3 linked regions of the Homo sapiens genome follow. The protein of the gene in region 2 interacts with the protein of the main gene of each other region in a biochemical or structural test. Each region holds a gene or a part of one and is shown on either strand. Other genes may lie near its edges. The genes, in order: PRKG1, TNNT1 and TPM1.

The links.
Region 1: the proteins of TNNT1 (region 2) and PRKG1 form a complex in vitro, tested with the Homo sapiens proteins (one study listed by BioGRID).
Region 3: the proteins of TNNT1 (region 2) and TPM1 form a complex in vitro, tested with the Homo sapiens proteins (one study listed by BioGRID).

The regions. Positions count from the first base shown.
Region 1 is NC_000010.11:52,267,452-52,274,557, forward strand, and holds part of PRKG1 (cGMP-dependent protein kinase 1), read left to right. Parts: intron 1-3,898; coding exon 3,899-4,038; intron 4,039-4,940; coding exon 4,941-5,030; intron 5,031-7,106. UniProt on the Homo sapiens protein: Serine/threonine protein kinase that acts as a key mediator of the nitric oxide (NO)/cGMP signaling pathway. GMP binding activates PRKG1, which phosphorylates serines and threonines on many cellular proteins.
Region 2 is NC_000019.10:55,146,101-55,153,938, reverse strand, and holds the start of TNNT1 (troponin T, slow skeletal muscle), read left to right. Parts: upstream 1-4,732; 5' UTR 4,733-4,778; intron 4,779-5,845; exon of another isoform or gene 5,846-5,940; intron 5,941-6,770; 5' UTR 6,771-6,781; coding exon 6,782-6,813; intron 6,814-6,917; coding exon 6,918-6,931; intron 6,932-7,231; coding exon 7,232-7,258; coding exon of another isoform or gene 7,259-7,279; intron 7,280-7,472; coding exon 7,473-7,505; intron 7,506-7,838. Other genes in the region: TNNI3 (troponin I, cardiac muscle), read left to right, coding at 2,022-2,105. UniProt on the Homo sapiens protein: Troponin T is the tropomyosin-binding subunit of troponin, the thin filament regulatory complex which confers calcium-sensitivity to striated muscle actomyosin ATPase activity.
Region 3 is NC_000015.10:63,059,747-63,066,784, reverse strand, and holds the end of TPM1 (tropomyosin alpha-1 chain), read right to left. Parts: intron 5,917-7,038; coding exon 5,846-5,916; intron 5,588-5,845; coding exon of another isoform or gene 5,512-5,587; intron 5,073-5,511; coding exon 4,997-5,072; intron 4,571-4,996; coding exon 4,508-4,570; intron 4,210-4,507; coding exon 4,140-4,209; coding exon of another isoform or gene 3,976-4,139; exon of another isoform or gene 2,722-3,975; coding exon 2,643-2,721; coding exon of another isoform or gene 2,639-2,642; exon of another isoform or gene 890-2,638; coding exon 886-889; coding exon of another isoform or gene 798-885; 3' UTR 607-797; downstream 1-606. UniProt on the Homo sapiens protein: Binds to actin filaments in muscle and non-muscle cells. Plays a central role, in association with the troponin complex, in the calcium dependent regulation of vertebrate striated muscle contraction.

The sequences.
Region 1 (7,106 bases), on a different chromosome or scaffold from region 2:
CATGATGAGAGTTTTACTTTTACTCATTGTAAAAGCAAGGTATGAGGATTGTTCAAAAGTTAAGCAATTCAAAAAGTAAAAAGAAGTAAAAATCAACTAAAAATCTCCCTAAGGAAAAATCATTGTTAACGTATTGATGAACACATTTCTGATTGTCTCTTCATACATTTATTTCACATATAGATGTGTGTGTATATATATACATATGAATGTATATATACACACTAACATACGAACACACTGTGAGATCATAAAATGCATGCTGACTTGTAATCAGTATCTTTTATTCATATATATGTCTTGGTTATTTTTCCGTAATGTTAAATATAATTCTAAGTCATCATTTTTACAGTTGCATTGCATGGATATACCATAATTTATTTTTCAAGCTCCTCCTCTTGCTAGAAATTTAGATTGTTTCTAAATTTTTCCATTAGAAACAATGTTGAATTGAACATTCTTGAATGATCTTTGGGAAGTTGTTGGTTTATCAGAAGATTTCTGATGAATATGTTACTTGGGCTTTATGGAAATAATTAACTTCAACATTCTCCACTGTCTCTGTTGAGTTAGCTCACACCAGTGGTCCTCAGGTACCCTGACTTTCTGGTTAAGATCCTGAGTTCTGTGAGTCTTGTAGCATTCTGGTTTAAATTGGAAGTGGAGATTCTAAGGGCCCTGCTCTAAGGAGCTCATGAGATCTTGTATAGAGTCCAAAGAAGGAAGATGATTCTAGACCCAAGGACTGGTTCCATGCAAAGTAAAGGCAAAGCAGAAAGCCTCAGTAGGTTAGCAGTATAGTTCTATAAACTTTTTGTAATTAATGCTTTTTAAATTGGCAACTAGTAAGCCTGACTCCCAAGAATTTCTGTTGCTTTCTGTAGCTTTTACCTATCTCTTATGACATCTGCCACCCACCAGTTCTCATTATCCTCTTTCTACCCCACTTGGCTTCTCCTTGCAGTATTCAAGCAATCGGGTATCTCAAACCCCTAACACATGGAGGTCCCTGGGAAGTGCCTAGGAAAATGTCAGTGAGGCTTTGGCTGTTCTCCCAAATCACATGCCTAGCATAAGTTAAGCTTAAAGGTAATAGAAATATTGTTCAGTTTATCTCACAGTCCATGAGTTAGTCGATTCCGTTAAACTCTGATTTGCAAAGTATCAATCACTATGCATTTAATTGGTTTTGTATTCAGCTGAAGGGAAGCAGCATATACTGGAAATAGCTTGGGCCAAAAAAAAACCTGAACATGAATCCATTTCTGCCACTTGATAGCTCTGTGACCTTGGGAAAGATAGGAATCATTTTTGGAAATCAGTTTGTTCCTCTGAAAAAGCAACATTTGATTTGCCCTATTCAGTAGAGATTGCTGGGTACAAGCAGAGTCCATCAATGAATGCCCATTTGGTGGTGCGTTTTCATTTAGGATCATAATAACTGTGGTATCTGGTATTATCCTCAGCTAGAACTAGGGCTCAGAGCAGTTAAGCAACTAGCCCGAGAGAGACTAGTTGCTTAGACTGAGAGGGACTAAGTGGAGTCAGAATTCAAGTCCAGACCTGTGACTATAAAGGCTGAATTCTTTCCTCCTACCCTGTGTACAAGTATAAAAAAAAAAAAATCTGTGTATCTGTGTTATCATCACTAAAGAGAATCATTTTTATAGTAGGCATTTTTGAACAACTGCACAACAGTCCTCACTAGTTTAACTGGGAATGACTCTGAAGAGGGAATATGACTTTACTTCTTCTTCTCTGAATTGTAGTACTCTAACATAGCTCATTTTTCATGCCATCTTCCCTAGCTTTCCAGATTTCTTTTAGAAGTGAGTTTTCACATTTGGTGTTTTATTTTGAGTTACTACTGAATTTATTTGTAGCACACTAATCTGTCATCTTTGAGTTTCACAGCCAGAGTACAGGGTCTTTGGCTGTTAAAAGCATTTTCAAATACCCATTTTTCCCTCTACCTGTCATACTGATTCACAATTGCTGGCAGCTAACCGAGGCCCATTTATTTGCAGTATCTTCATGCTCCCTCCTAAGGAACTTGCCACATGAATATCTTCGAAGATTGAACTCAATCTGTACATGTGTGCAGGAACAAGACACTTAAGACCTTCGCTATCCCTGCTGATGAAGCAGTAAATAATTAACGACTAAAGAGGGGACAGCCATACTTCAGCTGAAAAGCAGAAACAGCATGCCATGTTATTTCCCCAAGGTTACATTACTCCCAAATAATATGGGCTGTTTGGTATCATCTTGAGGATTCTGCTGCTTGAGAGCACTAGATGATAATGTCCTTACATTGCTTTTAAGTAATTAGCTCTATTACCTCTCTTGTTTTTGTTACAAGTCACCTTCTTGAAATTTCTTGTAAAACCATAAACAGCACCCTGTCTGAGTAAGGCATGTGGAAGATCCATGCCTCCTCTGGAGCCACTGGGAGCCATGAGGGCTGCAAGAGAGGCATGGCACATTGAAAGATATTAAGCCTCCAAGTCTTCCCAGTTATTAGAGAGTAAAGTTTGAGGTCAAAGGAACTAAAGCCATCATGCTTGTTTGAGAAGAAAAACAAACGGTTTTCAAAATCTCCTGAAAAAATCTTGTTACAATTTTTTTTCTCTTTAAACTGTAGGGAGGGAAAATTCTGCAAGGTTAAAAAGAAGAAATGAATACAGTCAGTACTGAAGAAATAACAGTCTGCAGTCTCAGCAGAGACTAGGGTCCACCACTCAAGCTAAAAATTAGAAATGTTAACAACAGGTGCTGGAGAGGATGTGGAGAAATAGGAACACTTTTACACTGTTGGTGGGACTGTAAACTAGTTCAACCATTGTGGAAGACAGTGTGGCGATTCCTCACAGATCTAGAACTAGAAATACCATTTGACCCAGCCATCCCATTACTGGGTATATACCTAAAGGATTATAAATCATGCTGCTATAAAGACACATGCACACGTATGTTTATTGCGGCACTATTCACAATAGCAAAGACTTGGAACCAACCCAAGTGTCCAACAATGATAGACTGGATTAAGAAAATGTGGCACATATACACCATGGAATACTATGCAGCCATAAAAAATGATGAGTTCATGTCCTTTGCAGGGACATGGATGAAGCTGGAAACCATCATTCTCAGCAAACTATCGCAAGGACCAAAAACCAAACACCGCATGTTCTCACTCATAGGTGGGAATTGAACAATGAGAACACATGGACACAGGAAGGGGAACATCACACACTGGGGACTGTTGTGGGGTGGGGGGAGGGGGAAGGGAAAGCATTAGGAGATATACCTAATACTAAATGACAAGTTAATGGGTGCAGCACACCAACATGGCACATGTATACATATGTAACAAACCTGCGCGTTGTACACACGTACCCTAGAACTTAAAGTATAATAATAATAAAATTTTAAAAAAAAGATAAAAAAAATTAGAAATGTTTGTGGATTAGAACTAAGGAGGAAGAATATAAAGGCCCATATAACCCTATTTTTGGCCATCTTTACTGAAATAAAATTGGAAAAGAAGTTTTTTTTCTACTCTTTTGACAGAAGAACTATAAAATGTATTCAAACACACTCTATGACATGAAATAATAAAACTAGAACTAAGTACATTTTCCCTCTTCTAATCCACACGTGAACACAATTAATTTGGAATCAAGTTAGTTAAAATTCAGCCAATTCAGAGCATGAGATTGGATGATAGCTGTGAGCCCTGGATGTTAAACGCAGCTCTACCAAGGATTTACTGTGTTTTGACTTGGGAGGTGGCTGAGGTTCATTTAAGTGCGCCATGTACCTGTTAATTTGGGGATAATAATGCACTCTTACAAGTCTATGGGCTTTTTCTTACTCTCTTCTCTCTTTCTTTAAGGTCCAGTTGAAAAGTGAAGAATCCAAAACGTTTGCAATGAAGATTCTCAAGAAACGTCACATTGTGGACACAAGACAGCAGGAGCACATCCGCTCAGAGAAGCAGATCATGCAGGGGGCTCATTCCGATTTCATAGTGAGGTAAAGGCTCCATGCCAGGGACAGACGTACCCAACTCCAAGTGACAAATCCACCACAAAACCCTCTGCCACTTGTGCTCACTGTTAACACATTTCGTATGCACAAAGAAACTTCTTTTTAATCTAATCTTAAGAAAGTTTTGTTTGATTTCTAAAAATAAAGTTCTGACTCTATTCTTTCTTTTAAAGAGAATTAGTGTCTGAAAACAATGTGTTTTCCCAAAGGAGGTACCAGAGTTTCTAACATTCCATTTTTATCTTTTTTTAAATCCCCAAACTCTACATAGACCTTTGATGCTTAAAAGACAAAATATCCAAAATCAAACTATTTAACCTTTAATTATCTGAATATTTTTTGAAGATCTAAAAAAATGAAATGACAGCTGACCATTCCACCTCAGTACTAATAAATGGATAATGGGGAGATTTTTATATGTGGAAGCAGCTTTTTGTAGTGAATTTTCCAGTGGCATTTACTGAAAACAAGATGTAACATGAATTTGAGCGAATAGCATATGAAATTTATACATGTCTGAATCTGTAAAGTTTAATCCACTTTATTCCCATTTTCACTGCATGTTGATGACCACTAAATGTTGCCCCAAGGGTCTATGCTCAAAACATTACCCAAATTGGAATGGAAAGAATCCCAAGAAACCCTCTTTGTCCATAATCATTATGATTAATCCATTTCAAGGGAGAGATTAGCGCCTTAGTTTCTTCTATTAAAATCCTATTCATGAGCCATTGGCTTCTTTTCCCCATGTGTGGGCTTAGATCTCTCTCATTCTGACAAAATTTTGAGCTTGGCAAATCAAAACTATAATCTGGGCCCCCCAAAATTGCACACTTGTAAAAGACAGTAATGTTTATAATCTTTGTTTTCTTGTTTGCAATTTACAGACTGTACAGAACATTTAAGGACAGCAAATATTTGTATATGTTGATGGAAGCTTGTCTAGGTGGAGAGCTCTGGACCATTCTCAGGGATAGGTAGGAGATTTAAGAAATTTCTATGATATCTCTAAAAACAGTTGCCCATGTTGGTCTATAAGAAGAGTTAATATGATAAAGTATAATAATCATATTTATAATTTACACATGCTTATATTTCAATATTTAAAGTAAGCACAGGGCATAACCCACTATACACATATGATTTACTGTACATATAACAAAACTCACTTTGTAACTAACAATACAGGCTTAGTCGATCATAAAAATGGTACATAGCAAAATATATACATGGCCTTAGTTTTGCATGAATGTTAGAATTAGCTCTGTAGCTGGAATTCAATTCATTGCTTTAGCAGAAAGAGAATTATAGTTATTTTATAATTATAATTTGAATTAACTATCAGTTTAATTGCTCTACTCTTTTTCCAGATAGGCAGTTTGCCTTTTGTGACATTGTGAATTTTTTCCAAAGTAATTTTTCCCTCTACCTTTACATGGCTCTTTGGTTTCAAAATTAACAAAAGTTTCCAGCCATCTCTTTATCCCTTGGCTAGTCTTAGGAAAAAGAAAAGAATCCACTTATAAGCAATATTTCATGTAAATTATCTGATTTAGATTTACCTTCTTACCCTTCCAGGGCAAGGAAAGTTTGTCTACATGGTGCTTGTTTGTTCTAATCATGCAAATTCATTGTCTTAATTTTCCATCTCATATTTAGATAACTAGCAAATTATCTAATTATCTTCTAATATAATTTATCCTATAAAATGTCTCAGGAGATCATTATCTACCCTGTGTTTTTTTAAAAACACACTTTTATTTTCCTATGAATAATCTTTTGATTATTTTCCATGAATGATTTATTGATCATACAAAAGTCATCTTTGTTCTTTTGAACACTCACATTTAGACATCTGTATTTTTCTTATTTGTTTGAGTCCTGCCTCCCAGACTCTCCTTCACAGGGTAGCATCCTTCTGAAACTTAGCTATAGGTAGCCCTGATGTATATAACCATGTAATGTTTTTATATTTGTTACTTTGCAGATACCCCAGAATAAAACAAGTGGTTCCTTATGAACTGTTGATTTAAATTCTCATTCCTAATGGTGTTCTTATGGTACCTTCATATCTTTGTACAACAGGCCCTTTCGTGTTATTCCCATGGCCTTTCTTATATATGCCAAATGGATTTCTTGTTACCACATTGTATCCTATTGCATCGGTATTTTATTTCAATTCTTAAATTTAAGGTTAAAAAAGCATAAAAGGGAATGTAATCATGTTGGCATTAGGCGATAAGGTTAACATCTATACTAAGCTATTATATCATAGTGTATATATTATGTATTATTGCTAGTTAATATGTACATAGAGATTATATACCAGGCATTGTGATAGAGGCTGGGGATCCAGTAATAAACAAAACAGATGGGGTCTCTCTCCTCAGAATGTATAGTTTGTGGCACAAAGTTAATATTTTAATCTGTGAGTTAACATTTGGCATATCTAATGTGTTTCTACTGTATTATATTTGACTTGATATTTCAATTCACTGATTTATTTGAAGTCTTCTACTTTTTTTTCTAATTAGAATAGAAGAAGATTTACAGGTGGAATTAAACATGAAAGCAATAATAAGCCACAAAGGGAGAGCCCAGCTATCCCTCTTATAGCTTATTATTTTTTTATTTTTTCATAAGTTATTGGGGTACAGGTCATATTTGGTTACGAGTAAGTTCTTTAGTGGTGATTTGTGAGATTTTGGTGTACCCATCACGCAAGCAGTATGTACTGCACCATATTTGTAGTCTTCTATCCCTCACCCCCCTCCGACTCTTCCCCCCAAATCCCCAAAGCCCATTGCATCATTCGTATGCCTTTGTATCCTCATAGCTTAGCTCCCACATATCAGTGAGAACATGTGATGTTTGGTTTTCCATTCTTGAATTACTTCATTTAGAATAATAGTCTCCAATTTCATCCAGTTCCCTGCAAATGCTGTTAATTCATTCCTTTTTATGGCTGTGTAGTATTCCATCATATATATACATATATATATATACATGCCATCATATATATATATATATACACACACACACATGCCATCATA
Region 2 (7,838 bases):
GTTGGAGGTAGAAGCAGCTAGTAAGGGGTCCTCAGAAATGCAAGAGGAAGACAGGAAGTAGAAGGGGAAGACAGGAAGTGCATTAGGGCTACAGGAAGTCCATGTAAGAGCAAAGAGGTACATGAAGGTCCAGGTGCAGTGGCTTATGCCTGTAATCTTTGAGGTTTAAAAAAAATTTTTTTTTAATTTCCTTTTTTTTTTTTTTTTGCGATGGAGTCTCTGCTGCCCAGGCTGGAGTGCAATGACACCATCTCGGTTGCTGGAGTGCAGTGACACCATCTCGGCTCACTGCAACCTCTGCCTCCCAGGATCAAGTGATTCTCATGCCTCAGCCTCCCGAGTAGCTGGGACTACAGGTGCACACCACCATGTTGTTGTTTTAATTTCTACAAATTTCTTTTTTAAATTAGCCAGTCACGGTGGTGGCATGCAGCTTCTCAGGAGGCTGAGGCAGGAAAATCGCTTGAGCCCATGAGATCGAGGGTGCAGTGAGCTATGACTGCACCACTGCACTCCAGCCTGGGCAATACAGTGAGACCCTATCTTAAAGAAGAAGACAGGAAAGATAGGAGTGGATGCCTGAAACCATGGATTGTACTGAACCCTATATGTAATTTTTTTTCCTATACACACATACATACCTATGATAAAGTTTCATTTCTAAATTAGACACAGTAAGAGATTAACAATAAATAACAACAAAAGAAGGTTGGGCGTGGTGGCTCATGCCTGTAATCTCAACACTTTGGGATGCTAAGGCAGGCAGATTGCTTGAGCTCTGGAGTTCGAGACCAGCCTGGGCAACATGGCGAGACCATGTCTCTATAAAAAATACCAAAGTTACCGGGTGTGGTGGCTCGTGCCTGTAATCCCAGCGCTTTGGGAGGCCAAGGCGGGCGGATCATGAGGTCAGGAGTTTGAGACCAGCCTGGCCAACACAGTGAAACCCCACCTGTAGTAAAAATACAAACATTTGCTGGGCGTGGTCGTGGGTGCCTGTAATCCCAGCTACTTGTGAAGCTGAGGCAGGAGAATTGCTTGAACCCGGGAGGCAGAGGTTGCAGTGAGCCGAGATCTCACCACTGCACTCCAGCCCAGGCAACACTGGGAGACTCCATCTCAAAACAAAACAAAACAGAACAAAAGTTAGCTGGGCATGGTGGCACACACCTGTGGTCCCAGCTCCTCAGGAGTCTGAGGTGAGAGGATGGCTTGAGCCCAGGAAGTTGAGGCTGCAGTGAGCCGAGATTGCACGACTGCACTCCAGCTTGGATGAGGCAGCCAGACCCTGTCTCAAATAATAATAATAATAAAATAGAACAATTATAACAGATTGTAATAAAACTCATGAATGTGGTCTCTTTCTCAAAATATCTTATAGCACTGTAATCACCCTTCTTTTCCTTGTGATGTAAAATGACAGTGCCTATGTGCTGAGATGAGGTGAGGTGGATGACATAGGCATTATGACCTGGCGTTAGGCTACTATTGACCTGAGAATCCATCAAACTTATGAATTGTTTATTTCTGGAATTTTCCATTTAATATTTTTGGGCCATGGTTTACCTCAGGTAACTGAAACCACACAAAGTAAAATTGCAGAAAAGGAGGGACTACTATAATAAGAAGAGAAGGAAGGAGACAGGAAGGGCATAAGGCAGACAGGAAGTGGAGGGGAAAGATAGGAAGTGCAGGAAGGAGACAGGAAGTGGAGGGGAAAGACAGGAAGTGCATGAGGGAGACAGGAAGTGGATGGGGAAAGACAGAAAGTACATGAGGGAGACAGGAAGTGCTGGGGAAAGACAGGAAGTGCATGAGGGGGACAGGAAGTGCATGAGGGAGACAGGAAGTGCATGGGGAAAATTGGCAGGGATTATCTTGAAAAGACAGGAAGTGCTCCAGAACTAGATACTTAGGCATCCAGGGTAGAGTGGCCCCACAGGCTGGAGGGAAGACAGGGATTCTTGAGAGACTGGAGACCAAGAAGAGACCCTAACCTCTGACTCATCGCCATCCTCCAGGAAAACCGGGAGGTGGGAGACTGGCGCAAGAACATCGATGCACTGAGTGGAATGGAGGGCCGCAAGAAAAAGTTTGAGAGCTGAGCCTTCCTGCCTACTGCCCCTGCCCTGAGGAGGGCCCTGAGGAATAAAGCTTCTCTCTGAGCTGAAAGTGACTCCATGTCTATTACCCAGGGCTTAGGCAGGAGACAGATGGGAAGACTGCAGGTGGGGCTCCCCCAAAGCCACACAGCAGGTTGGGGACCAGATGGGTCTCCCATGTGAAGCACTCTTGGCTGTGTTATTGAAAAGAATCCCGGGGTTCATGAATTTGGAGAGCGGAGCTTTGTTTCTTAAGAAGCGGATCACAACCTGAAGACCAGAAGCATGGCTTCTTGCCAAAAAACAAAAGCAGGCACTTTAAGGGAGGGAAGGGCAAGGCAGGAATTTATGCTGAGTGGGTTAGCTAAGTGCACGTATTCAACTGGTTATAGAAGGAGCTATGAATATTCATGGACAGGTGGACACATGGACACACGCATGTGTGACAAGCAAACACTCATTTTTTTTTTTTTTTGAGACGGAGTCTTGCTCTGTCACCCAGGCTGGAGTGCAGTGGCACGATCTCAGCTCACTGCAACCTCTGCGTCCTGGGTTCAAGCCATTCTCCTGCCTCAGCCTCTCCAGTAGCTGGGATTACAGGCATGCACCACCACGCCCAGCTAATTTTTGTGTTTTTCGTAGAGACGGGGTTTCACCATGTTGGCCAGGCTGGTCTCGATTTCCTGACCTCGTGATCCGCCCTCCTTGGCCTCCCAAAGTGCTGGGATTACAGGCGTGAGCCACCGCGACTGGCCGCAAACACATTTTACATGCATCCCACCTTCACTTGGTGGTGGAGGCTTAACATTTAAGTGCATTCCATTGAATGCATTCGTATCGAAACACGAAGCAGGGATATGAAGACACTCAGTGCACAGCCTCTGTCAACAGCCAGAACCAGTCCGTGGTCTGCGGCATCTTATCAGGAGAAAGTTACTGAAATCAGTCTCTTGTTCAACTAATGCTGTAGTTATGCCTTGTGGAACAGGGGGTTCAGCTAGTCAGCATCTGGCAATGGATGGCTGCAATGGTTGTAATATTGCTTATCTTGAGGCCGGTGCTTGTTTAGCTGCTAGAAAAAGGAAAAGCCTTGTGGCAGTTGGAACATAGTCGATTATATAAGTGTAGGGATGCGTGGCTTAACCCTTGCCTGGCATGGCCTTAGGTCTTGTTTATAATTTGGTATCTTATTGCCACAAACAGTTCATTCCATCAGTCTTCTGATCTCTATTGTCACAGCTCCTCTGGCCCATGTGGAGTGCACAGAGATGCCAAGACTAAAGGTCAAAGAGAGAGAGACACAGAGAAACAGACAGGCAGAGAGACATGACCGACAACAGAGAGACTGAGTTGGGAGTAGAGAGAGTAGGAGCCAGGCAAAGACCCAAAGAGAGAGGGAGAAAATACCACAAGATGCATAGAAGGAAGTGCAAAGAAAGGAGAAAAGAGAGACAGAGATATACTCACAGCAAGGTGCAGAGACATGGAGACCCTATAAGAGATGGAAATGGAGAGCCACAGAGGGGGAACTGCGGGCACTAAGAGAGACATGGAGAGAACTAGAAAGATAGAGACGTGAACACAGACACAGAGACCCAGAGCCAAAAAGAGACAGAAATGGGGTCATAGGTGGACAGAAATGCACAGAGAGACTGTGAGCCCCCACAGACACAAACGCTGAGAGGGGCAGACATGCAGAGACACCCACAGAAATGCAGAGACAAAACCACCCGGAGACACATGCCGAGAAACACACTGAGGGGCTCAGAAAGCGACAGATGCAGAGAGAGCCCAAGACAGACCCAGCAAGGGGCCCCGAGAAATGCACAGAAACACAAAGACCGAGACCACCAGAGACAGAGGTACGGAGAGGCGGGGAGGGTGAGGAAGCCTGCTCTCCAGGGCTGGCTTGAACCTAGAACTCAAGGTCATGGCTTGGCTGGGAAGCGGGAGGGGGATACCAAAAAAGATCAGCGTTAGATGGAGGTGGGGAGGGAGGGTAGGTTTCACCCTAATTGACACCCCACCCTCCCCCTCCCCCTCCCCACACCTGCTTCCCGGCTTTAGTGCCTGTTGTCACCAGGATGGAATCCTGGCGGCAGACAAAGGGGTGGGGGTGGGAGGAGGAGACAAAAAGATGGACAGAGACAGAGGAGGAGACTAAGAAGTAGAGACAGACACACAGAGACACACAGATGGAGAGCCACAGAGACAACAGAAATGGGGGTCCAGAAAGAGACCTAGATAGAAAGAGGGAACAGAGAGAAGAAAACAGGAAACATTCCTTATAGCCCATGTGTCATTAGTAGGTCCTCCAAGGACCTACTGTGTGCCGGGCATGGGGACGTCAAAGCACAGGGAGCTATAAGGGAGGTAGTTGGAGCACCACGGGAGCCTGGGGTGTGGGGTGGGAGCAGGGGCGGGGCTCCTGGGCCATGCAGATGGGGTTGGCATGGGGTTGGGGAGGGGCCCACGGAGGCTTCTGGACTCTGAGTGTGGAGCCAGGGGCAGCAGGGCTGTCTCTGAACTCCCAGGCTTGTGTTTGAGCAAAGGAATTCTCTCCCCCTCCCTCTCCCCTCGGGGCGGGCCCGAGCCTCCAGCTATAAACTCCCCGGAGCTTCAGTGCCCTCAGCAAGGCTCAGCCTCAAGATTCACAGCATCTCAGACACAGCCTAGGTAAGGGGCTCTGCGGAGCCCTGTGGTCTTCAAAAACCATGTCCTTGGGGGAGGGGGCAGGAGGCAGGTGGGGAAGATGTCGGGTGTGGAGAAATGGTGCAGAGGTAGGTGGGGCATACAACTGGAGGTCTGGGAACTTGAGAGGCTCAGACTTTAGGGGGACTCAGGATAGAGGGGAAAATACTAGGATTTGTGGGTTACACAAATCCTAACCCGGGGCTGCCAGGACTTGGATGTCCCAGAATAAAACCTCCTAGGATCTTGGGGTTCTGGGAATCTGGGGGAAATCTCAGCAGTCAGGGATATCTGGACTTGGAGGTCAAACAATCTGGGTGTCAGGATTTGGGGCCTCAGACTCTGAGGGTATCAGGAATTGGGGGGGTCTCAGAAGAAATTGGGGTTTTGGTAGTGGAGGGCTCGGAATCTGAGACATTATGATAGAAAGCATGAAAACTTAGAGTGCCATTATCTGGGGTATCATGAACTGGGCCTCCGAGTTTGGGTATCAAGATTTTGGGGGTCTCATATTCTTGAGGTTTCAGATTTTAGGAGGTCTCAAGACCTGGGGGTGGTCTTAGGATGTCCCGGCCCATATCTGGACTATCAAGAACTGGGATTTCAGAATCCAGAGCTGTGAGGACTTGCTGGCCTCAGAAACACGGGCATCATAAATCGGGGTCTCAGAATCTGTGGGTATTGGGATTTGGGGCTAGGCACCCTGTGGCCTAGGGTGTCTCAAAGACTTTGAGGTCTAAGAATGTAGGGGTCAGGGTGAGGTCTACGGACAGAAGGTGCCCTTTATGCCCCTGCCCCCTACGTGATGTATGGGAAGGTGAAAGGGGAGACAGGTGGGGAGGAAACCAGCCAGTGGGGTGGGGCGAGTGGGAGAGGGGATGCGGGTGACTAATTCTCCCAGAAGCCCCCCTTCCTCAAATCCCTTCTTAGGAAATGTCCTCGGTTTCACCATCTATGACATCCCCCCAAAATAGCTCCTGGGGGTGGGGCAGCTATTGTCTTCAGGCCACTGTCCCTTCTCAAATGCCTCTTCCTAATCCCAACTGGATCAGGTTCCCATGGACTTGTCATAAGACAAAAGAGGACAGCTGTGCTGAGGGGGCAGGGTCTGCAGCCTCCTGGCTGTGCCAGGACCACACCTACCAAGGTCTGTCCTCATGCATGCTTTAGGACAGCCGGCCCCCTCCCTCAGACCCAAGAGTCCAGACCTGAGCCCTCCTCCCTCAGACGCAGGAGTACAGGCCCCCAGCCCGCTCCTCCCTCAGACTCAGGAGTCTAGACTCCCAGCCTCTCCTCCCTTAGATCCAGGAGTCCAGGCCCCAGCTCCTCCTCCCTCAGACCCAGGAGGCCAGGCCCCCAGACCCTCCTCCCTCAGACCCAGGCGTCCAGGCCCGCGGCCCCTCCTCCCTCAGACCCAGGCGTCCAGGCCCCTGGCCCCTCCTCCCTCAGATCCAGGAGTCCAGACCCCAGCCCCTCCTCCCTCAGACCCAGGTGTCCAGGACAACCCATCTCAGTCTCAGGAGTCCACACCCACCCTCCCACACACCCCCCAGCCCCTCCTCCCTCAGACCCAGGAATCCGGCCCCCAGCCCCTCCTCCCTCAGATCCAGGAGTTCAGGACCCCAGTCCCTCCTCCCTCAGACCCAGAAGTCCAGGCCCCAGCCCCTCCTTCCTCAGACCCAGGAGTCCAGGCCCCAGCTCCTCCTCCCTCAGACCCAGGAGTCCAGACCCCAGCCCCTCCTCCCTCAGACCCAGGAGTCCAGGCCCCCAGCCCCTCCTTCCTCAGACCCAGGAGTCCAGGCCCCAGCTCCTCCTCTCTCACACCCAGGAGTCCAGACCCCAGCTCCTCCTCTCTCACACCCAGGAGTCCAGACCCAGGAGTCCAGGCCCCCAGCCCCTCCTCCCTCACACCCAGGAGTCTAGGTCGCCCCCTCCTTGGGGCCCCACCCCACTGGGCCTCTTCTCTCTGGTCCTTAGGCCGCACCAGGATGTCGGACACCGAGGAGCAGGAATATGAGGAGTGAGTGCTGCACTGGGAGGGGTTGGGGCGTGCAGTGGTGGAGAGGCTCTCCCACCCCAGGTCTAACTCTCCCCTCCCTCCTCTCTCCCCACACCCGTCCGCAGGGAGCAGCCGGAAGGTGAGTAGGGAGTGGGCCGGCCCTATGGGATGGGGACACGCCCAGGAGCTCTTGGGAGGGGAGGCGAGGAGTGTGGCACTTTGGCGGGGAAGGGGCGGCTCAGCCCTCGGGCCCTCGCCCGCCCTCTCCGGGTCTGGAGCGTCTCCTCGCGCCATCCCTGCACCGCCAGGGGGAACGTGCCCATCGCAGCCGAGGCCAGAGGGACCCCCGTCCAGCAGAGACTGGAACCCTGGTCTCTGGCCACCGCCCCCATCCCTCCCCCAGCTCCTAACGCCTTCTCTTCTGTGCCCCCATCTCCAGAGGAGGCTGCGGAGGAGGAGGAGGAAGGTGAGGTCCCGGACTCCGCAGGTCTGGAGCTGGGGGGTGGGGGGGCGGGGACGCTGGGCCCGGGAGGAGGGGGCGGGATGGGGCTCCCGACGGCCTCGGCTCCCGGTCCTCTAACAGCCTCTCACGTCTCTTCCCTCTCTCCCCTCCCGCGCCCGGGCGTGGCCGCTCCCCCCTCGCTCCCCAAACCCTCGCTGCTCCTCCCTCCCCTCCCCAGCCCCCGAAGAGCCGGAGCCGGTGGCAGAGCCAGGTAACCGCGGCTGCTTCGCTTCCCGAGACCGATGTCGGGGGCCCGGGGGGACCCCCGATATCCTCGGGCCCCAACCTCCAAGACCACCCTTCCCTCCCTCCGCCCCCATAACCCGCCCCCAGGCCCGGTCCTTTAAGCCCCTGAGAGCTCCTGCGCCCTCTCGGGGCCGGGAAGGGAAATGGCCCCGCAGTGGCTTTAACCCTTTCCCTTCCTTCTTAAAGGGACCGACACCCAAGCCTTCTTCCCCAGTCTGGAGGAATCTTTACAGAAGGGTTGGATGTTTGCGGAGAAGCACCACCCCATCCCCCCTTATCTTCGCCTCCAACCTTGTCT
Region 3 (7,038 bases), on a different chromosome or scaffold from region 2:
AAATCACGACTAAACAGAGTAATCATATTTAGAAAACCTAAGATGTCATTTTCATGATCAAAATAAAGGTGGCTGAGTCATGAATATACTTCAAAAAAGCTTGAACTTTTCTTTGTGCTATAAAAGGATGATCGACAATAACCAAAACTTACATTGTTTGAATCCAAGTTCTTTTTCACCCTTCTCAATGTATAACTTCCTAGTAATATGGGACAGCTACAGAACCATTCATCATGAGCCTTTCATTAGTTAGCCAGGTCCTCCCAAGTAAGGCCACCGAAATAATCAACACAGAGGGGTCACTACATCCCGAGCTAAACCTCCAGCAAAGGAAGACACTGATCAAGCCAGACCTTTCAACTCTCAACAAGCAATGTCCCCTGTGTGACCCAGACTGCAAAGCAGAGCCATCACAATTCCCCCAAAACCCCCCCAGATGTCCAGACCTCATTCTAACCTTTGAAAATCAGAACTCTGAGAGGGAATGCAGGCCTGGGTATTTTTTTGAAGTTCAACAAGGAACTACTGCTTTAGAAACTCCTGATATAATTCTGTATAGTGTTCAGTATTTAAAAAGAAAAAGCAGCAGCCAAACACTAACCCTCATATGTGTGAAGCAGCTTTGTAGTTTTATTCAATGTTGAAACTAAAATGTCAATAAATAAGAAGTAAAAAGAATAGCAAACAGAAATAGCTTACACAGTGTTTATTTGACACTGAAACGAAGAGCTTCTGTACAATAGAAAGCACAGTGTGTGCCTGGCTCTAAGGCAGGATGCTAAGAGAGAGAACCAGGGTCAGCTGGAGAATAGACAAATGCAGAGCTCAGAGAGGTGGGACATCCAGCTCGACGAGGGAGTCTTGGGAGAAGTGAAGCAAAGAAACTTATCTGCGTGAAGATAAAAAGGTGGGAGGAAAAAAAAAGTGGCACAATGAGAAAAAAAAAAAAAAGAAAGGAAACCAAACCAATAGATGAGAGCACTTGAAACACAGACAAGAAGCAGTCATGCAAACCCCACTGCCAGCCACACCCTTGGAAGGACATCCATCTTCCCACCTGAGGCCGTCACAGGCCGCCTTTCGGCAAGGGTCCATTTTAAGAAGACCCATGAACAGAATTTAAAAACAAAAAAAATTTTAAGCTACACTCGTCTTTCAGAATATTTAATCATACTTGATGCAAAAAGTTTTTCCCAAAGAATCACCACATTTTAGCACTGAAAAAGACCTTAGAGACAGATGATCTGCTCCACCCCCTCATTTACAAATGAGGGATGAGAAGACACATTTTCTCTGGTTTCCATGGCAACAGTCATGTCTCTAGAGGCTTTTTTGTTGACTGTGGGGATTCTATAACCTCTAAGGCAGCAGGCACATGCCACTCTCTTCAAGTTACCATTTTTTCTGCATGGGTAAATGAATGACAGGTGGGCTTGGAAAATGACATTTCCAGCTTCAATGGAATTCAGGGTGATATTAGAATGAAGAACTCTGAAACATTCCAGGTTAGAATTTAAAGTAGTAGAAAAAGTTTAATGTTTAAGTTTGGTTAGTAATATGTAAATTAGTTGTATCTGTTCAAGGTTCTTCTCATGATAACAAGACTACCTACTCCAACTCTTACTGCCTAACAGTAAAATCTGGGCCATTAACTCCCAAGCTCACATTGTACAATCTGTGTTTAATTTCCCATTTATTTGACACAGGTTGTGGTAAATATTTATCGTGGGTATTTTAATTCCTTTCATAAAAACACAAAATTAAAGGCTTGGTTACTCAGCAGAGGGTTCTTTTTACTCTACCATTCTTTTTTTTCTTGAGACAGAGTCTCGCTCTGTCGTCCAGGCTGGAGTGCGGTGGTGCGATCTCGGCTGACTGCAAGCTCCACCTCCCGGGTTCATGCCATTCTCCTGCCTCAGCCTCCTGAGTAGCTGGGACTACAGGCATCCACCACCACGCCCGGCTAATTTTTTTTGTATTTTTAGTAGAGACAGGGTTTCACCGTGTTAGCCAGGATGGTCTCAATCTCCTGACCTCGTGATCCGCCCGCCTCGGCCTCCCAAAGTGCTGGGATTACAGGCGTGAGCCACTGTGCCCGGCCTACTCTAGAATTCTTAAAAGTAAAAGAGATGATCTTTTGTAGTACCACTGTTAAAGCTGTATTGGATCATGCCAATTTCCTTATCCTCAGATTCTCAATAACCTGACACTTTAAGGGTTCCTTCAAATTATATTTAACGAAAATGATTATGTTGTACTTAGTTGAATTTCAGGAAACAAATTTTGATATTTTTTGAGAAGTTCCTGTACAACAAACGGCATGGCCTTCTAGTTTTACTTGAGTTTAGCTTAATTTCCCAAAAGGACAGTGCTCAAGGTCACTCATTCTAGTTCACTGCTCTAGTTCAGCGTTTACAAAATAAACGGATTCTGAAAAGAAAATGGTTTGTATAGACAGACTTAATCTAATTGGCCTTTATATTAGCAGAAAGTGAAAAAACAATGACTATTCTAGGTTATGACAAAAAGGGTGAACACAAGAGTGCAAAGATGGAGATTAGGGAGCAAGGAAGGCATGGTGGTGAGTTTATTACATTAGCATGAGGGCAGGGTGTAAGCAGGCAGAGTGGATGAACGTTTACATGGAAGTCATATCGTTGAGAGCGTGGTCCAGCTCCTCGCTGATGGCTTTGTACTTCAGTTTCTGAGCGTACAGCTCGTCTATGACCAGGAAGTGGAAGGCAGAGGTGCAAGAACATGGAGAGTGATCAAGAAATGGAGGGTGAGTGAGGGTGGTGCGCGCACCATCCCAACACAGCAGCAAGAAAAGGGCAATGCATGAAGGGGTTGGTGCCGCAGCAGGTGGCCAATGCAGGAGGCGTGCGTTTTGTTTTAAGTAAATTGAAACAAAAACAAAGAGAACAAAACCCATTAGAAAATAAAATGAAAAAGACTCAATATGAAAATCCTAACAAATATGGTAGGTATATCAGTAAACCATGTTAAATTGTAAACGAAACCACAGAAGGCTGTCTCCTGGTGAGGGGAGGCAGGGGCTAATGGAACATCTTTCTTTTGCAGAGCTATATTTTAATTACACTGGAGTAGTCAGGCATCTGCAGCTATAAACAATGGGAAAAAAATGCAAGGGCAGTGTTTTGGAAGAACAATTTGTGACTACAGCCTGTAGTCCTTATCTGGTTCCACCTTCAAACCACTGACTTCCTGACCACACTAGACCACTGGGATAGCGATTTCTTAGTGCCATTTAAGCTACTCCTGTGGTCTTCCCACTCAAGCTGCCTATTACTGGTCCAGGAGGCTTGAAAAGCAATGGGCGCCACACTTTATATGGCAAGTCTGCAACTTAGTTTTTGTAATGCTGCAGGTTTCATACTTTGCTGCACTTTGGCAGATCATTTTGCAACCATTTGTCATTCTCTCTTCTCCACTATTTTGGTTATTATCTGCACCAAACACTAGTTCCTTCTCTAATCCCTTCTGTGATGTAGATATTTGTCTTTTTTCTTTCTTGTTCACAGCTAATCCTTCACAAGCTTCAAAGCTCAACATTTAGGATATCTGTGAGATAGAGTGGTTATTACTAAAATAAAACCTAAGTGCCTTAGGGAAGAAATGCTTAAGTATAATTTTTCCCTCCTCCTTCAGGATATAAAGTATTTTGTTAAGATAATATATGACTTAAAATAACCCCTAAATCCTTACTTTGAATTCATACTTGGAAGAAGATGGGTTCTTCTAAAAACAAGACCACAATCACCACATCATTCCCAATTTAATTAGGAAGTAACACTAAAGATATAAAATATACTAGAGTCATTCTCACCAATAAGCACCTCACTCACAGTGAAAAATAAACCTGCCACACTTGTAATGAGCATGAAGTCAAGCTGGATGGCATTTGCCACTATGGCTGGTGGCTAACTAGTCACCTCGTGAGCAGAAGACTTAGGTTCATGAGTTCAAGAGCCACAGAGAAAAACCCCAGAGGACACACAGGAAGAATGTGCAAGTGCAAAGGAGCGTATCAATGTGGATGCCCTTGAATTGGAAAATTGTTTTGCCAGGTTGGTATTCAACCATAAGGATTAAACTAAAAACACTACTTAAGATCTTACCTTCTAAGTCATCAATGCTTTTCTCCAATTTAGTTACTGACCTCTCCGCAAACTCAGCCCGAGTCTCAGCCTGTAATGATTTATTTGAGTTAAAGTTGGGAAGTTTTATGTTTCCTGTAGCTACAAACATAGGGAAAACTAGAGGATGAAAATGAAGCACATCACCTATAAAATGGATCAGAAACTACTTGTCAGTTTCAGTCACCTCTGTGAGAAATGGCAGTTAGCACAGTACATAAACTCCAAGGCGACCTTTGAATATTCCTGACTTGGATCATTGGAACTTTAAAATGAAAAGGCCCTGACCGGTTCCATGAAAACAAACTCATTTAAAATCCAGTTGGCTTCATCCACAACTCTCATATTACCTCCTTCAGCTTGTCGGAAAGGACCTTGATCTCTTCCTCATATCTGTCTTCCTTCTGCGAGTACTGTAATTAGAAAGAGCATTCCAGATGTCAGGCTGCAGCTCAATCTACTCATGGCTTCTCATGCAAAGAACTCGCCAGCTCAGCCAACAGATGTTAAGGATCTCTTAGGAGGTAATGGAACCTCTGATATCAAATGGCACACTGCAATACATTCTCTGCTTTCTTGCCTATTGTTTTACATGGGATAACAACAAGATAACTTATCCACTTGGCACTTGGTTTAAATTAAATTGATGCCTCATATCCCTAACATAAAATAAATTCTCTAGTTAAAAAAAAGAATTTGTTATCTAGTAACTCTCCAAAAATCACCTCACAATATTGCCATTTTACTAAAATGTCTACTGTAAGTGTTGCTTTCTGGCAGGGCCTCTTTTGAGCAGCTCTTAAAAGATGCCTTTCCCCCACACCATCCTCCTGGCCTACCTTCTCAGCCTGAGCCTCCAGTGACTTCAAGTTGTTCGTCACAGTTTTCAATTCTTCTTCAAGCTCGGCACATTTGCTAATGTTTTCGATCAGAGGCAGAAAGGGTGGGAGACAAGCCAAAGGAAGGAGGAGAGAAAAAGGAGAGGGATGGGAAAAAATGAAAACTGAGTCCTAGAGACGAAGGGCTGCCTTAAAGTAGCCAAATCATCAGGTATTAAAATGTTTAGGTTTTCCAGGAACACTGCCCCCCAACCTCGCAACAGCAGAAGGCAGGGTGACCAAATCCAACAACTTTGAAGTGCGATAATTTGGCTCCTTTTTTGGCTGCCCAAAGAGCATTTATGAAGGGAAAACAAAGGAGCATAAAGGACCAAGGGAAAGCACTTAAGGCAAGATATAAATAGCAGAGGGTGAAGTGAAGGTGCAGTCGTTATACCAAACGAACCAGGAGGCATTGGAAGCTGAAAGATGTCTGGGTTGCAGTTAAACCTAAAAACCACACGAGCCATCAGTACCTTATCCTCTGCAGCCATTAATGCTTTCAAGGTCTGATCCATTATTCTTAATTGTTCTTCCAGCTGTCGGACTTGGCTGTTAGTGGACACAGGAAATGCACAAGGCCATTCACAAAATCAGTGTGCAGGTAAGGCATGCAGTGATACACGCATTCATACATAAGACACCCCACACGAGTCCTCCATGTTCCATACTCGTGGCTCATCCACATCAAATGAGCACAAAAGGAGCCCGGAGCTGAAACAGGTAATGTGCAGCTGCCAGAAGGTCATGCTGTTTAGTCACTGCTCTGCAGCACCCCATTCGTGGCCTCCTGGCGCCGGGCCCGCTTACCCTTCTGAGAGCTCAGCCCGCTCCTCTGCACGTTCCAGGTCGCTCTCAATGATGACCAGCTTACGGGCCACCTGCAGCAGGAAGACACAACACACACACCATGGGTCTTGCAAGCTTTGTGTAACAGAAGGGCATGGGGGTAGAGATCAGATCCCATCAGGCCCTAAGGGTTTTGTCTACAAACAATATGATCCTCTTTCTGGTAGACCAGAGAGAAGCAACTCTCTATTAGGAGTGCCAGCAGAGAGGAGATCAGAGGCTTCTGCTTTGACTCAGAATGGTTAGCTGTGATTGGGCAGTCTCAATTGGAAGTCTGACCTAGGTGAACCGGCAGCCAGACCAAAATGTGGAAGGAGGGATAAAATACACATTCACAATCTCAAAAACAGCAGTAGGATGAGACATGTACTAAAAAGGTGGGGGCTGCCAGGAAAACAAAGTAAACCTAAGAACTCCATCAATTTGATGGCTGATCTGTGCATCTACCTCCTTACTGCAGTGGAAGAATACAAGAGACACTAACGTGAGACAAGTTGGTGAGATAACTGACAAAATCAAATTTGTATTTAGTGGAAGAACCAGAGAGAGGAAGGGAGCCTCTGAAGCAGATCAAAACTTGTGAGCATAGTGTAATCTGAAGGTAATAATGGTAATAAAAAGGAGGGGCAATGCTGTTTCAGGATAGCCACGATGTGATCCAATAAGGAAAAAACAGAAACCTTAATAATCAAGTTGCCTCTTATCACAGGAGGCTGTTTTCATGGGGACACGACCAGGAGCAAATTCTGCTGAAAACCTGCGTTGATAATAGTTTTCTACCACCCTTGAGGAGAGAGGCCTCTGTGAATCCACTGAGAAACTGTCTGTGGTCTCTAAGCTGCCCAATCTGGATGTGCCAGGTCACTCTGGGAAGAAATGACTTGCACCATGACAGCATGAGAGCCTCCTTTCACAAGACACAGGGCCCAACTCTCCCTTCCGGCCAAAGATCTTTTGTCCGGGTCTTTGTGGCTGGGGGAGAGGAGTTTTGGTCCTTCTTCGCAGTGCTACTGATTGGCTTCCTGATAAAGCCTGGGATCCCCTAGCAGGATTAAAATTAGAACCGTTTTCTGGACACAAAGGAACTCTGCTTCTCAAAACCACCCATTTCTGCCAACAAAGCAGATGGCCTCACTCGGGAATCAAGACTGTAC